4 linked regions of the Homo sapiens genome follow. The gene in region 4 interacts genetically with the main gene of each other region. Each region holds a gene or a part of one and is shown on either strand. Other genes may lie near its edges.

Region 1 (3,500 bases), on a different chromosome or scaffold from region 4:
GGCAACCAGGATGGAGGACAGTGGCACCATCACAGATCACTGCAGCCTCGAACACCTGGGCTCAAGTGATCCTCCTGAGCAGCTGGGACTACAGGAGCACACTACCACGCCCGGCTACCGTATTTTATGGTTTTAGAGATGGGGTCTTGCTATGTTGCTCAGGCTAGTCTTGAACTCCTAGCCTCAAGTGATCCTCTTGCCTCAGAACCCCAAAGTGCTGGTACTACAGGAGTGAACCACAGCACCTGGCTAAAGTGTTTTCTTATACATTATTTATCTCTGGATCTAATGAAGTGGGCAGGGCAGGCATCATCACCATTTTGCAGAGGAGGAATCAGACGTTCCACAAAGCTAGGGTCTTCCTTTTGTCTAAGTTCCTACTACACCTCAACTCAAAATGACTAATAAGAAAGATAATAATAATGTAATGTGACAGACACTGCTATCATCCGTATACATGTATTATGTAATGTTCATAATCACACAAGGAAACAAGTGCTATTATGATTGCCACTTTAAGATGAGGTCATGGAGCCTACACTCTTAACCAACATGCTACATCTCCTTTCTAAAAGAGTCTGTTAGAAAAACAATGGGGGGGTGGGCATGGTGGCTCACACCTGTAATCCCAGCTTTGGGAGGCTGAGGTGGACAAATTGCTTGAGCTCAGGAGTTCAAGACCAGCCTGAGCAACATGGCACAACCCTGTCTCTACCAAAAATATAAAAAATCTGCTGAGTATGGTGGTGCACACCTGTAGTCCCAGTTACTCGGGAGGCTGAGATGGGTGGATTGCTTGAACCCAGGAGTCGGAGGCTGCAGTGAACCAAGATCGTGCCACTACACTCCAAGCTGGGCAACACAGTGAGACCCCATGTCAAAATAAAAAAATAAAAGAAAGAAGAAAAAAAACCATGGGGTTATTTCATCTTTCAAAACAAATAACACAACCTCTTGGTAAGAAACCTTTAAAAAAGATCATACTGGTTAAAAGCTCAGGCTGTAATGCCAGACAGAGCTGAATTCTAATCCTGGCTCAATACATATTTACTAGCTCTGTGACCTTGAACCTAATGACGTGACCCTGGGAAAGTTATACAGGTTATCTGAAATGCTTGGGGCCAGAAGTGTCTCAGATTTTTTGGATTTTGGAGTATTTGGATTATACTTACTTGTTGAGCATTCCAAGTCCAAAATGCTCCTGGGAGCATTTCCTTTGAGTGTCATGCTGGCACTCAAAAAGTTTCCAAAAGATTTTGGAACGTTTTGGATTTTGAATTTTCAGATTTGGGATGCTCAACTCATGCAGTCTCTTTAAGTCCCAGTTTCATAATCCTCACAGGCTTGTTAGAAAAATCAAATGAGATAATACATATAATGTGCTGAGATTGGCACCCTTATCTCCTAAGCTACCATATAGGACTCTATGTATTATACCAGGCTATGAGAAATTTTCAACAGTACATTACATGCCTTCTTCTCTCCCGCTTGGGAAATACTAATAATTTTGAGATGGTTTTCTTTCCCAATGACTAGTAAATAGCCCACAGCCCAGACTCTGTGCAGTAACAAAACTACAAATCCCCAAATTGCTATAGGCCTTCTCCTCTGCTGGGCTGAGGACCCAATTCCTAAGAGAAAACTAAGACAACATTACTGTCAGGACCAAGAAGATACCAAATATCATAATGTTCTACTAACAAAAGAGAACATAAACATTATATACAGCACAATTGAATCTATTTAGAAACATGGCCTGTTAAAAATCTCTAGAAATAGAAAAGAGACCAATAAGAAACACAAAGAGTTAGCAGTTGCCTTCGAGTTGTGAACTGTAACCGTGATCGTTCCTATTTTCACTTTTATGTGCACTTACCGAAAACAATTTTTACCAATATTTTTTAATAACAGAAAAATGCCTTTCAAAGGGCGACCTCCTTTTCTCCAGAACCCTCTATATGTAAGTCAACTTACAGATTTTATCTCATGTGTGATTTGCTTGAGATCTCAATCCTATTGATCCTCTATACGAAAAGCCATATAGGCCGGGTCCAGTGGATCACGCCTGTAATCCCAGCACTTTGGGAGGCCAAGGTGGGCAGATCACCTGAGGTTGGGAGTTCAAGACCAGCCTGACCAACATGGAGAAACCCCGTATCTACTAAAAATACAAAAAATTAGCTGGGTGTGGTGGTGCATGCCTGTAATCCCAGCTACTCGGGAGGCTGAGGCAGGAGAATCGCTTGAACCCGGGAGGTGGAGGTCGCAGTGAGCCAAGATCGTGCCACTGCACTCCAGCCTGGGCGACAAGGGCAAAACTCCGCCTCAAAAAAAAAAAAAAAAAAAAGAAAAGCCATATAAGCTAATTTTCTGTTTAATGTTTGAGCAGTGAATGCCAGCCTAAACAAATCTCAATATAAGTGATTTTTTAAAAAGTTTAATTAAAATTTATAACAGACTATAAGCACCTAAACTGCTTATTTTATGCTTATTTTATAGGTAAACTAAAATAACACAAAATGGGAATACTCCACATATGATGCTTTATAAAGTAGCTATAAAAAAATACCTTGTGACACTTGCAAACAATTTCTTTTTCTTCAACGGTTGTATTTATCAGGTAAGAAACATATACAAGAAACATTCTGGAACCCACTGTTCCACAGCGAACATACAACATTTTTTCCAGCTGTAACAAAATAAATGTTGTAATTTAATTAGTATTACAGACATTTCTTCTTGATATATATTCTAGGATAATGTTCCCACCTTCTAGAGTTTATTTATACCAACTGGCTAAATTCTTTATCACTTTTACAGAATGTTACAATGTAACTCATCAATGCTCCCACTGTAGTAGAGTACTCTGATTACACTGTGGCCACAGTATAAGGGTGGGATCATTACTACTGCATCTTTTAGAAATTATTGTTCTTTAACTTCCAAAATATTTTTCTATCTAGTTTGGAAGCAGAAGTTGACTGAGAAGTTAACTGCACTAAGTTACAAACAATGGGTATTTTATTAGCCCACTAATTCATGTTAAGCATGTTTTCTAAATTCCCTTGTAGAAAAACTGCTTAAGACATTTTACACATTTACGTATGTAAAATGTGTATGAAATGTTCATTAGTTAAATCACTTTTTCAGTCCTAGAATATGCGTTAAAACGCTCTGAACTGTTAAAAACTCACTATATATTTAAAACTACAAACTAATTGATTTCCTCTTCAATCCCAGTTGACCAAGTTTACCTGTTCCCCTGGATGTAAGTCTCCAACAGGAATGTCAGTGAGTAAAGCCGGGTAGGATTCATCACACAGTTCTGTTCCATGAAGAGTCACGTGAGTCTTCTGAGTTAAATTGGCATCCTGTCCTAAAAGAGTTAATATTGGTTCTTCAAAACAAAGAATTCAAACATTATCCCAATAATCAATACTGTGTGAAGAGCACTATGCCATACCCTCTTGTAAACAAAAGTCCTAGAGTTGACATCACTG
Region 2 (3,500 bases), on a different chromosome or scaffold from region 4:
TATGAGGGCAGTGTGTATGTAAAGTCCCACTGGAGAGCTGCTTTTTTCAGGAAGAGGGTGAATTGCACCCTTGGAGCCATCAGAATCCTCAGGCCCTCCTTATCAGACTCAGAATAGAGACTAGGACTGTACTGCCAAGTAGGGGCCACTTTATAGTTCCACCTGTAACATTTGCTATGTCAGTTACCTTGCCATGCTTAGCCATTGTCATATTCCATTCTGTTCTCGTCCCTCTTCCTCCTTTGGGTAACCAACACAGTGAGGGAGCCTGTTGGCCAAGGAGAACTCAAGAGGATTAAGCAGCCTCTCCTTCCTTCCCCCTCCTTCAGTGAGAAGGAGAGTCTGGTTGGACATGAAGGGAGGCTTCTTTCAGCATAAGATAGTCCTTAGAATGGGAGGTTTGGCCTTTTAGGGGGAACACTCCTCTTCTTCTTCCTTAAGGTTTCTTCCATTCAGCCTCAGCCCCTCCCTGTGTAACTCCTGCTTGCCTCCTGTTTGCCCCTTTCCTTATCTTTCTACATCATAGTCTGAGCCATTAAAGCCTCTGTGTTGGGCCAGAAAGACTTGGAATTTCATATCTAGAGGGGGCTTGATTTCAGCAATATGAGCTGGGCTCCAGCTGTTCATGTCTAACTCAACAGGGTTGAGAGAAGTAACATCTGCCTCTTGTTCTTTTGTCTCCCTCCTTGTATTCCCCTGCTGCATTTATTATTAAAACACTAAAAGCAACTCAGTGAGCTGCCTCCTCAGCAGAAAACCAGGCACAGAATAGACCCCGATGCCATTCCTAGTCCAGTAAGTGCAGGGGGTGGGTGTTTGTGCATGTCATTCCTGTGTTAGTGCCATCCATGCATGCCTGTGACCTCATCTTCACCTCATCTACCATGTCCATTCCTCCCCATTCTCTTCCTTTAGCCTAGCCCTTCTAGATACTCACTTATACAAGATAAAAGGATATGCATGCCTCAAGTCACCAGGTAATGAAGAGGTAGCAAGCTGTTTGCCTTGAGTATGGGGTGGTGGAAGGTCAGGCTCTAAGGGTGGGGTCAGGTGGCATGTCAAGCTTTGGCTTTAGTTCTGCTGGCACCTCCAGGAGCCTGCAGGTGATGTATGATGGAAGAGGACAAAGTTGAACGGTAGATCATTCCACTTTGGATTTGATTTGTCTGTAGCCTGTTGTGGAGAAATATTGGAGTAGGAATGTACAGATTCATAGTATCCCAAACTGGCATTTCTTACAGGAGAAGGGACTGCTGGTTTGGGAAAGTGTGGGTGCTTTCTCATCTGAAGAGTCTTTTTGACTCTGATATATTTCTAAGCTTCAACCTTTCTGCTATGGGATAGAGTCTTATTTGCCCTTTGCTTTTTCTGGTTTTCCAAACCCATCTTGAAGTAACTGACCAAAGGTCATTAGCCTGCATAAAGGTCTGAATACCAGCTTTGCAGGTCCTTTATTTTCCTTTGCTGAGTCTGTCAAAATGTGGAGGACTGAGGATTGAGCTATAAGGATTGGGTACTTCTCCTCTCCTCCTATATATACACATTGATGCTTACCTGAAAGTAAGGCAGCATCTGCTTCCTCACCTTACTTGATCATTTCTGGCTGTTTAAATCTCTCCTCACCCTGTCCCTTGTAATTTCATTGAGTGTAGAGTCATTCCAGGTAGATTCATTTTTACGTGGTTACTGTTGTCTGTTTTCCTGCTCTGACTCAGAATGTGTCTTGGGGAGAGGATCGGGGAAGGCATGATGGGGGAGGGGAATGGAATCTAATCATGTTTGAAGGTTTGTGATCAGAGCTGGGGCTTTTCCTGGAATGGGAGGAATGAGAGGGTGTTCACCATTGATGGGGGGTAGGGGGCAATTCATAAAGAAGCCCATTCTCATGTTGCCTGCCCAGCAGGCTGCTGGGAGTGAAAGATTGGCTGCTGTAGAGTGTAAGATTGGCATTACAGCATTTTATATGATCTCCAGAAGGAGAACAGGCCTGGTGTATGAGGTGTTCCTTGGCAAATTTTTAGTTTTTGTGTTACAGCTCTAGCCTTTTTCACTCTTGGCACTCTGGGACCTCACACTTCCTTTTTCTTCTGTCACCTCATTCATTGCACTTCTCTGCAGATTCAGGTCATTGAAGATGACAGGAACAACCGGGGTACAGAGCCATTTGTTACTGGAGTACGGGGCCAGGTGCCACCCTTAGTCACTACCAACTTCCTGGTGAAAGACCAAGGTGAGAATGGAATTAGCTCCTCCCACAGGGGCTTTTTCTTCAAGATTATCAGCTTATGGTTGGGGCTTTTTTTTTTTTTTTTTTTTTTTTTTTTTTTTAGTTTTTAACCAGAGACAAGTTCCCTCTAGTCCCTCTGGGGGAAAAAGCCACCATCACCTCTAGCTTTGTGGAGTTGATGGTGTGGATCACCAATGGAGAGCTGGTGTCTGGAAGGATTCTGTGATCTGACTCGGGTCTTCTGCCTCCTTCTTCAGGGAATGCAAGTCCCCGATACATCCGATGTACATCCTATAATATCCCTTGCACATCTGACATGGCTAAGCAGGCTCAGGTGCCCCTGGCAGCAGTCATCAAACCGCTGGCAAGGCTGCCCCCAGAGGAGGTGAGTCAGGGAAGGGGCTAGAGTGTAATGAAAGGGAGGGAGGTAGAGAGGGGTCTAAAGCGTCTTCCTGGATGTGATTCCAGCTTCACAATGGAAGATATTTTAGTTAGGCAGGAGAGGAGACTGTCTTTAGTGGCTTTCTATCCCAGGGCCCATGCCTGGAGAGGGGATGGTAGGGATGAGAGCAAAAGCCCAAGACATTGCTGAGAAGGAACAGAGTCTCTAGAGGAAACAAGCAGGATGAAAAGAGGTAGGGCCAGGCCAGGCGCAGTGGCTCACGCCTGTAATCCCAGCACTTTGGGAGGCTGAGGCGGGTGGATCACGAGGACAGGAGATCAAGACCATCCTGGCTAACACGGTGAAACCCCGTCTCTATGAAAAATACAAAAAATTAGCCGGGCGTGGTGGCGGGCGCCTGTAGTCCCAGCTACTTGGGAGACTGAGGCAGGAGAATGGCGTGAACCCGGGAGGCAGAGCTTGCAGTGAGGCGAGATTGCACCACTGCACTCCAGCCTGGGCAACAGAGCGAGACTCTGTCTCAAAAAAAAAAAAAAAAACAAGAGGTAGGGCCAAATTGTAGGGGAGAAGACAGCTGAATGTAGGAACCTCTCGTATCATGGTCATCTCCAGATGATGAGAAGGACATCATTCCATGTTTTCCTGACTGTCCTGTCATCCCAGGTTAGTGCTGTTAGAACAGCATATAAGAGAAAAGGTAGATTAGGATCCAGTGATCCTTCTGTCACCTGTTTTGGGACCTGATCTGTCACCCCAGTACCTGATACCAGCATGAAGAGAGCGAGCCAGGCAGCTGCTCCACCAGGCCTTGGTAGGATACTCATATTCAGCCTTGCTTATCTTACGATAGGGTTCTCTGTTACTAGAAGC
Region 3 (3,500 bases), on a different chromosome or scaffold from region 4:
CGCTGGCAGATTTGGTGTCTGGTGAGGGCCCACTCCCTGGCTCATAGATGGCTGTCTTTTCATTGTGTCCTTGCATGGTGGCAGGGATGCGGGAGCACTCTCCGGGGCCTCTCATAGAAGGGCCTGGATTCCATTCATGAGGGCTTCACTCCCATGACCCAATCACCTCCCAAAGGCCATGCCTCCTAATTCCATCCCCTTAGGGGTTAGGATTTTGACATGTGAGTTTTGGTAGGGGACACAGGCATTCACTCTATAGCACTGATAAACATTCTTTGATAATAGCCATTATTTTAGTGGGTAAGGTGTTTTTAAATACCCATAAGCGAGCACAAAATCAGTTTAAATGGCAGAGAGGAGGGTGAGAAGAAAATGCTGGTGGGGAAAACCTTTTGCTGTGCACGCCTGCTCCTTCCTCCACTCCTACCCCATCTCCATGACCCTGTAAGTGGCCACAGTCATGTCACTGGGTAAAGTGCTTATTGAAACAAAATTGGCACAGGCTTCTGATCCTGCGTGTGGGTTGGTGTAGCAGAGGTTCAGTGCAACAGAAGAAGTTTTTCATCTTAAAATTTGGAAGTAACCCCTGGCCAGCAATTCACTGTAGTGTTTGGGAAACATAGGAATATCTGCTTATTGTGACAGATTCTCAAGAAACCTGTTTCCTTTCCACAAAGATGGAAACCAGGCACTGTACCAATGAGTCAGTTCACTACGTTTTGTCCTCTGTCCTTACACGCAGCGGAGACAGACGAGAACTTGGTCCTCTGCCTCTGCTGTTTGGTGACACCTATCGTAAGAATGTATCTAGGAATGAGCTGTTTGTTTTTGAAGTACTTATTTTTGGAAACCCTAAAGTGGCTGAGCATCAAGTGGTTGTGTTTTCTCTGAAAACGCCAGTATTAGTCATAACCTTTTTCCAAAGTATCATCCCTTAAAGATGTTCAGAACCTTGTGTGTATCGTATAACCTGGAGCACCCTCAAGCTGTCCGCCCTTTTCAAGTTTTAAAAATGGCTTAGGCAAACATATTGCTTAAGTGATATCCAGTGAAGGTGTCTCCTGTGCTTTGAAAAACCATCAACATTGATGCTTTTTTGTGACCCAATAAGGACAAGATTTCAGTGGTTCTGGGATGCATTTGATCTTTATGCACACTTCAGCTCTGGGTTTCAGTTCAGGGGTCAGCATAAGTAAAGCTTGATCAGATAACTATGCTTTGCCTATAATCGGCATTCATTCTGCTGGTGACAGAGTCCTTTGCTCAAAATGAGGCTTCCATGCGTTTGCAGTTCTAAACTGCTTTTCAGAGTCATGCCTCAGTCATTGTACTGAAGGATGCCTGTGGAAATGGTGGACTTCCGTGTTCTTTGCATTGCCTCTCCCCCATCCCTCTTACACACAGCTGTGACATGGGCATGCACACTCCTTCACACACACAGACTCTCCAGGCCCCTTTCCACTTCCTCTTTCCATTTGGCTTCATGACATTTTTATCAGAGATTCAAAATCTCAGATGAAATCCAAGTCAGCCTGTTTTACCAGTTGTCGAAATTGCCGGAGTGCAGCACTGTGGAGAATGGCAGTTGTAATAAATGAGAAATACCAGGTGTTTGAATTAGCTGTAGATTTTCACATTGTCTCTTCTAACCCTGCTTGTGCCCCCGCAGCCTTTTTCCATTTACAACTCAGTAATGTTTGTTTTCACAGAGATTACCGGAGGAAATAGATTATAAAGGGAAATGTTGGCATTTATAGTAGTACTATTTCAAAATAAGGTTCACTTTTCACTTTGTATTTCATTGTTCATTGTTATTTTCTTATCCAGGTCAAACTGGCAGTTTCCTGTTGGCTTGCCAGAGTATCTGATAGCCTGACTCTTAAGTTCATTTCATTTTCTAGAATGTTCTTTGTTCCCCTCTCCAGTTCCTTCCATTCCCTTGGACGTTCTTTCAGCATCGAACTCCTCTTCTCAGTTAATCGTGAAGTGGAACCCTCCCTCTCTGCCCAACGGCAACCTGAGTTACTACATTGTGCGCTGGCAGCGGCAGCCTCAGGACGGCTACCTTTACCGGCACAATTACTGCTCCAAAGGTAAGGGTGCAGCAGCGGCCTGGACGGAGGGTGTGACCGTTCATTCCTGTGGTTGTAATGTGCCTGAGCCCTAATATTACACGTATCAGACAACAGTGTAGTTCTCCATTGGAAACCAGCTATCTTCTGGTTTTTTTTTTTTTTTTTTGAGACAGAGTCTCACTCTGTTGCCCAGGCTGGAGTGCAGTGGCACGATCATGGCTCACTGCAATTTCTGCCTCCCAGGTTCAAGCATTTCTCATTCCCCAGCATTCCGAGTAGCTGGGATTACAGGCATGCACCACCATGCCCAGCTAATTTTTGTATTTTTAGTAGAGACGGGGTTTCACCATGTTGCCCAGGCTGGTCTGAAACTCCTAACCTCAGGTGATTTGCCCGCCTCGGCCTCCCAAAGTGCTGGGATTATAGCCTTGAGCCACCACATCTGGCCGAGACCAGCTATCTTCTTGATTAAAGGTACTGAGAGCTATTATTTTTCCTTACAAGCATGTATAACGGCTTTCATTCCCACTCTTGTTTTGGCTTTTCTTTTCCGAGAAGACAAAATCCCCATCAGGAAGTATGCCGACGGCACCATCGACATTGAGGAGGTCACAGAGAACCCCAAGACTGAGGTGTGTGGTGGGGAGAAAGGGCCTTGCTGCGCCTGCCCCAAAACTGAAGCCGAGAAGCAGGCCGAGAAGGAGGAGGCTGAATACCGCAAAGTCTTTGAGAATTTCCTGCACAACTCCATCTTCGTGCCCAGGTACCCAGCTCATGTGAAATTTCAGTTGGCAAAACCCACTGCTCAGGCCGGTTCTGTTGCCTTTCTCCCCACCAGGTAGTGTGTAAGTCAGCAGCTGGGGGGTACAATACAGTAGCCACTGAGACGGAGCCGAAAAAGATGACAGGTTCGGTGAAGTGAGTCCCTGCGGAAGCCAGTCAGCCCTGAAGGGAACAGGGACCAGGGCTTGGGTTGCTGGGGCCACCGGTGTGACAGGTACTGCTGTCTCAGCCACAACCCCCCACAGAGAGCAGGTGGGCACCCTGTGGTAGAGGCAGGGAGGGGAAACTCAAAGAGTATTGACAGCTGCTGCCTGGTGAGAGGAAAGGCCAGGATTTGGGTCCATCTCTGCCCTTCCTAATTATCTTTACTGCCTCTCTCAGCCTCACAGAGGAGGAGTGAAGCAAGAGGGAAAAAAGTCAGAGTCTGTGCTGGAAAGGGCCTGACTTCAAAACATAGCCAGGTGCCACAGGCATCCTGTACAAGTAAGTTTGGGAAGCAGTGTAGGGCGACAGCCTGCATTGGCTGTTTATTCCGTGGTTACTCTGTCTTTCAAAGCAACACAGCCCCTGCCCCAGGGACTCTGCTCCTCTGCTGTGGTCTTGGTTTCTGGGGAGTGGGGACAAAAGCAGAGGAAAGTAAAC
Region 4 (3,500 bases):
AAGTACAACACTCAAGGTATTTGAAAAGACCTAAATAAGTAGACATTTTATTCTTCTGCTGTGAAGATTTAAGCAGTGGCTCACGCCTGTAATCCCAACACTTTGGGAGGCTGAAGCGGGTGGATCACAAGGTCAGGAGATTGAGACCATCCTGGCTAACACAGTGAAACCCCGTCTCTACTAAAAATACAAAAACAAAATTAGCCGGGCGTGGTGGCAGGCACCTATAGTCCCAGCTACTCGGGAGGCTGAGGCAGGAGAATGGCGTGAACCTGGGAGGCGGAGGTTGCAGTGAGCCGAGATCGCGCCACTGCACTCCAGCCTGGGCGACAGAGCAAGACTCTGTCTCAAAAAAAAGAGAAAAGATTTAAGTTCTCCCTAAATTCATCTGTAAATCCATTGACTCCCTATCAAAATTCCAACCTCTGTTTTTAAAGATGATTTTAAAATTCATATGGAAAGAAAATTTGGGAGTAAAACTCAGATGAACTTCCCTACAAGATCATAAAACTGTGATCATTGAACCCATGGTGATTTTTTTTTTTTTTGAGACAGAGTCTCACTCTGTTGCCCAGGCTGGAGTGCAGTGGCACAATCTCCACTCACTGCAACCTCCACGTCTCGGGTTCAAGTGATTCTCCTGCCTCAGCCTCCCAAGTAGCTGGGATTACAGGGATGTGCCACCACGCCCGGCTAACTTTTTGATTTTTTGTAGAGGTGGGGTCTCACTTTGTTACCCAGGCTGGTCTGGAACTCCTGGGCTCAGGTGATCCTCCTGCCTCGGCCTCCCAAAGTGCTAGGATTACAGATGTGAGCCACTGCACCTGACCCTCGTAACGGTGATTTTTAAGACTAGGTGATCTTAGTGACATAATTCTAATAGTTTGTTCCGACCTTCCACTGTGGACTCAATAGCAGGGAGATGAAGAGGACAGTGATTGCATGACCTGGTGGAGAAGAGACTAGAGAAACACAGTGGAACTAGTGGCTCACATCTGTCATCCCAGCACTTTGAGAGGCCGAGGCAGGCAGATTGCTTGAATGCAGGAGTTCGAGACCAGCCTGAGCAACATAGTGAGACCCCATCTCTATTAAAAAAAAAAACAGGCTGGGGCCAGGCATAGTGGCTCATGCCTGTAATCCCAGCGCTTTGGGAGGCTGAGACGGGTGGATTGCTTGAGACCAGGAGTTCAAAACCAGCCTGGCCAACATGGTGAAATCCTGTCTCTACTAACAATACAAAAAATTAACCTGGAGTGGTGGCGGGCGCCTGTAATCCCAGCTACTCAGGAGTCTGAGGCAGGAGAATCACTTGAACCCAGGAGGCAGAGGTTGCAGTGAGCCAAGATCACGCCACTGCACTCCTGCCTGGGCAACAAGAGTAAAACTCTGTCTCAAAAAACAAACAAACAAAAAAAACAGGCTGGGCATGGTGGCTCATGCCTGTAATCCCAGCACTTTGGGAGGCTGAGGTGGGTAGATCACCTGAGGTCAGGAGTTCGAGACCAGCCTGGCAAACATGGTAAAACCCCATTTCTACTAAAGATACAAAAATTAGCCAGGTGTGGTGACACGCGCCTGTAATCCCAGCTACTTGGGAGGCTGAGGCAGGAGAATCGTTTGAACCCAGGAGGTGGAGGTTGCAGTGAGCCAAGATTGCACCATTGCACTCCGGCCTGGGTGACAAAACAAGACTCTGACTGGGATTACAGGCGTGCGCCACCACGCCTGGCTAATTGTTCGTAATTTTAGTAGAGATGGTGTTTCACCATGTTGCCCAGGTTGGTCTTGAACTCCTGACCTCAGGTGATCCACCTGCCTCCCAAAGTGCTGGGATTACAGACGTGAGCCACCGTGCCCAGCCATAAGTAAGCATTCTTTCCTTTTTTAAAAAAAAAAAAAGTGGAGCAATCTAAATATCCATCAGTAAAGAAGTACAAAATTATGGCTTGTGCCGGGCATGTTGGCTGCAACCTGTCATCCCAGCACTTTGGGAAGCCAAGGCAGGAGGAATTCGTGAGGCCAGGAGTTTAAGACCAGCCTGGGCAACATAAGGAGACCCTGTCTCTATAGTAATAATAATAATAAAAATTAAGGTTTGGTAATACCACAGAAAACTGAGGCCATAGGAGAGAATGGATTTGCCTCTAGACTCACGTAGGAGGACCTAAGCCTCAGTCCGTGACACGGTCTGCAGCTTTCCCACGCTCCTGTTCACGTGGGGAAGGGAGCAGAGGACGGGGCTCTGTGCCTGCAGGTGTGGAAACAGGGAACAGGGTGGTGGGGGCTGGCTAGAAGGCCCGCATCACACAGCAGGGGGCGCCTGGCAAGGGGAACCCAGCTCCATATGTCATCGGAAGCTTTGTGCTTTGTAGTGAGGATGTGGGTGCCTGCCTCACTTTGCAGATGACTGTGCGGGAGGCCTGGGGACCCAGAGGTGTTGCTGGAGCTGGTGTTTACTGCAGCCCTTTGTTATTAACGCTTTAGGACCTGTGAGAGTTTGGAAATATTCCCACCGTGGGAGGGGCTTAAGCGTTTTGTCTGGGGCCGTTTAGCCAGTCGGCAGTGTCCCCAGGCTCCTAAGGAGCTGTCTTCTGAAGCTGCCTGTCGTATTGAAAAACGAAAGTAATTTAGTCAGAGGTCAGAAGCTCAGTCTGTGAGGTGTGGGCTGCACCTGAGGGCGTCCCATAGAGGGAAAGAAGGGCAGCTCGCAGACACCCCGTGATTTCCTGTGTGACCAATTTCTCTACAGAAGACACAAAGACACATCCAGCGGGGACCACCTCACCTGCAGATTAGACCCCCAAGCCAAGACCTGAAGGATGGGACCCAGGAGGAGGCCACAAAAAGGCAAGAAGCCCCTGTGGATCCCCGCCCGGAAGGAGATCCGCAGAGGACAGTCATCAGGTACAGAGCGCAGGGCAGGCTGCACGCCGCCGCTCAGGGCTTGATGTTCCGAAAAACAAGATTGCGGAAACGCATTGTGTCTGAGATCTATTTTCCTTTGAAACTGACAGTGTATGCTCTGTAATCTGTCCTCATTAACCTTAGATTACAGAATCGAATTTTTAAAACTGGAGGTCAGAGCTAAATTAGGTCCCCGATAATGTCCTCATGGTATGCAGTAACATTTCAGAATGTTTTGTGTGCGTGTGAAGGGTGCACAGGTGCGTGGGGATGGGGAGCCAGGCTCAGAGGTGGACGCTGGCTGCCTGGGCCACCTCCTTTCCCGAGCCCCATCTGGTCGAGCAGAGAGCAGAGGGAGAGGGAGTTGCCCGGTGCCCAGGCTCCCAGAGTGCTGTCCTCTGCCCGGTTCGTCAAGTCCAGGTAGTGGATCCCAGTGGAGCTTCGGTGCTGGAGGCGTCTCTGCCTCGTTTCCGGCTCCATGTTACGCTCTTAGAAACGGAGTTGATTGTGGTTGAGGCGGAAGGAAGGGTTCCCCGCAGACGTCCTCTCTCTTCTACAAAGTGTGGGCAGAGCCAGGGCCAGTGAGGGCTGCT

Evidence for each region. A genetic interaction does not mean that the proteins touch.
Region 1: changes in MAN1B1 (region 4) and TRAPPC11 together harm fitness less than expected from each alone (positive genetic interaction), as found in Homo sapiens cells (one large-scale study listed by BioGRID).
Region 2: changes in MAN1B1 (region 4) and SEC24C together harm fitness less than expected from each alone (positive genetic interaction), as found in Homo sapiens cells (one large-scale study listed by BioGRID).
Region 3: changes in MAN1B1 (region 4) and IGF1R together harm fitness more than expected from each alone (negative genetic interaction), as found in Homo sapiens cells (one large-scale study listed by BioGRID).

What each region holds. Positions count from the first base shown.
Region 1 is NC_000004.12:183,693,793-183,697,292, reverse strand, and holds part of TRAPPC11 (trafficking protein particle complex subunit 11), read right to left. Parts: intron 3,377-3,500; coding exon 3,255-3,376; intron 2,690-3,254; coding exon 2,570-2,689; intron 1-2,569. UniProt on the Homo sapiens protein: Involved in endoplasmic reticulum to Golgi apparatus trafficking at a very early stage.
Region 2 is NC_000010.11:73,761,372-73,764,871, forward strand, and holds part of SEC24C (protein transport protein Sec24C), read left to right. Parts: intron 1-726; coding exon of another isoform or gene 727-795; intron 796-2,118; coding exon 2,119-2,230; intron 2,231-2,484; coding exon 2,485-2,612; intron 2,613-3,500. UniProt on the Homo sapiens protein: Component of the coat protein complex II (COPII) which promotes the formation of transport vesicles from the endoplasmic reticulum (ER).
Region 3 is NC_000015.10:98,914,039-98,917,538, forward strand, and holds part of IGF1R (insulin-like growth factor 1 receptor isoform 1 precursor), read left to right. Parts: intron 1-1,925; coding exon 1,926-2,093; intron 2,094-2,633; coding exon 2,634-2,838; intron 2,839-3,500. UniProt on the Homo sapiens protein: Receptor tyrosine kinase which mediates actions of insulin-like growth factor 1 (IGF1). Binds IGF1 with high affinity and IGF2 and insulin (INS) with a lower affinity. The activated IGF1R is involved in cell growth and survival control.
Region 4 is NC_000009.12:137,093,485-137,096,984, forward strand, and holds part of MAN1B1 (endoplasmic reticulum mannosyl-oligosaccharide 1,2-alpha-mannosidase), read left to right. Parts: intron 1-860; exon of another isoform or gene 861-946; intron 947-2,752; coding exon 2,753-2,907; intron 2,908-3,500. UniProt on the Homo sapiens protein: Involved in glycoprotein quality control targeting of misfolded glycoproteins for degradation.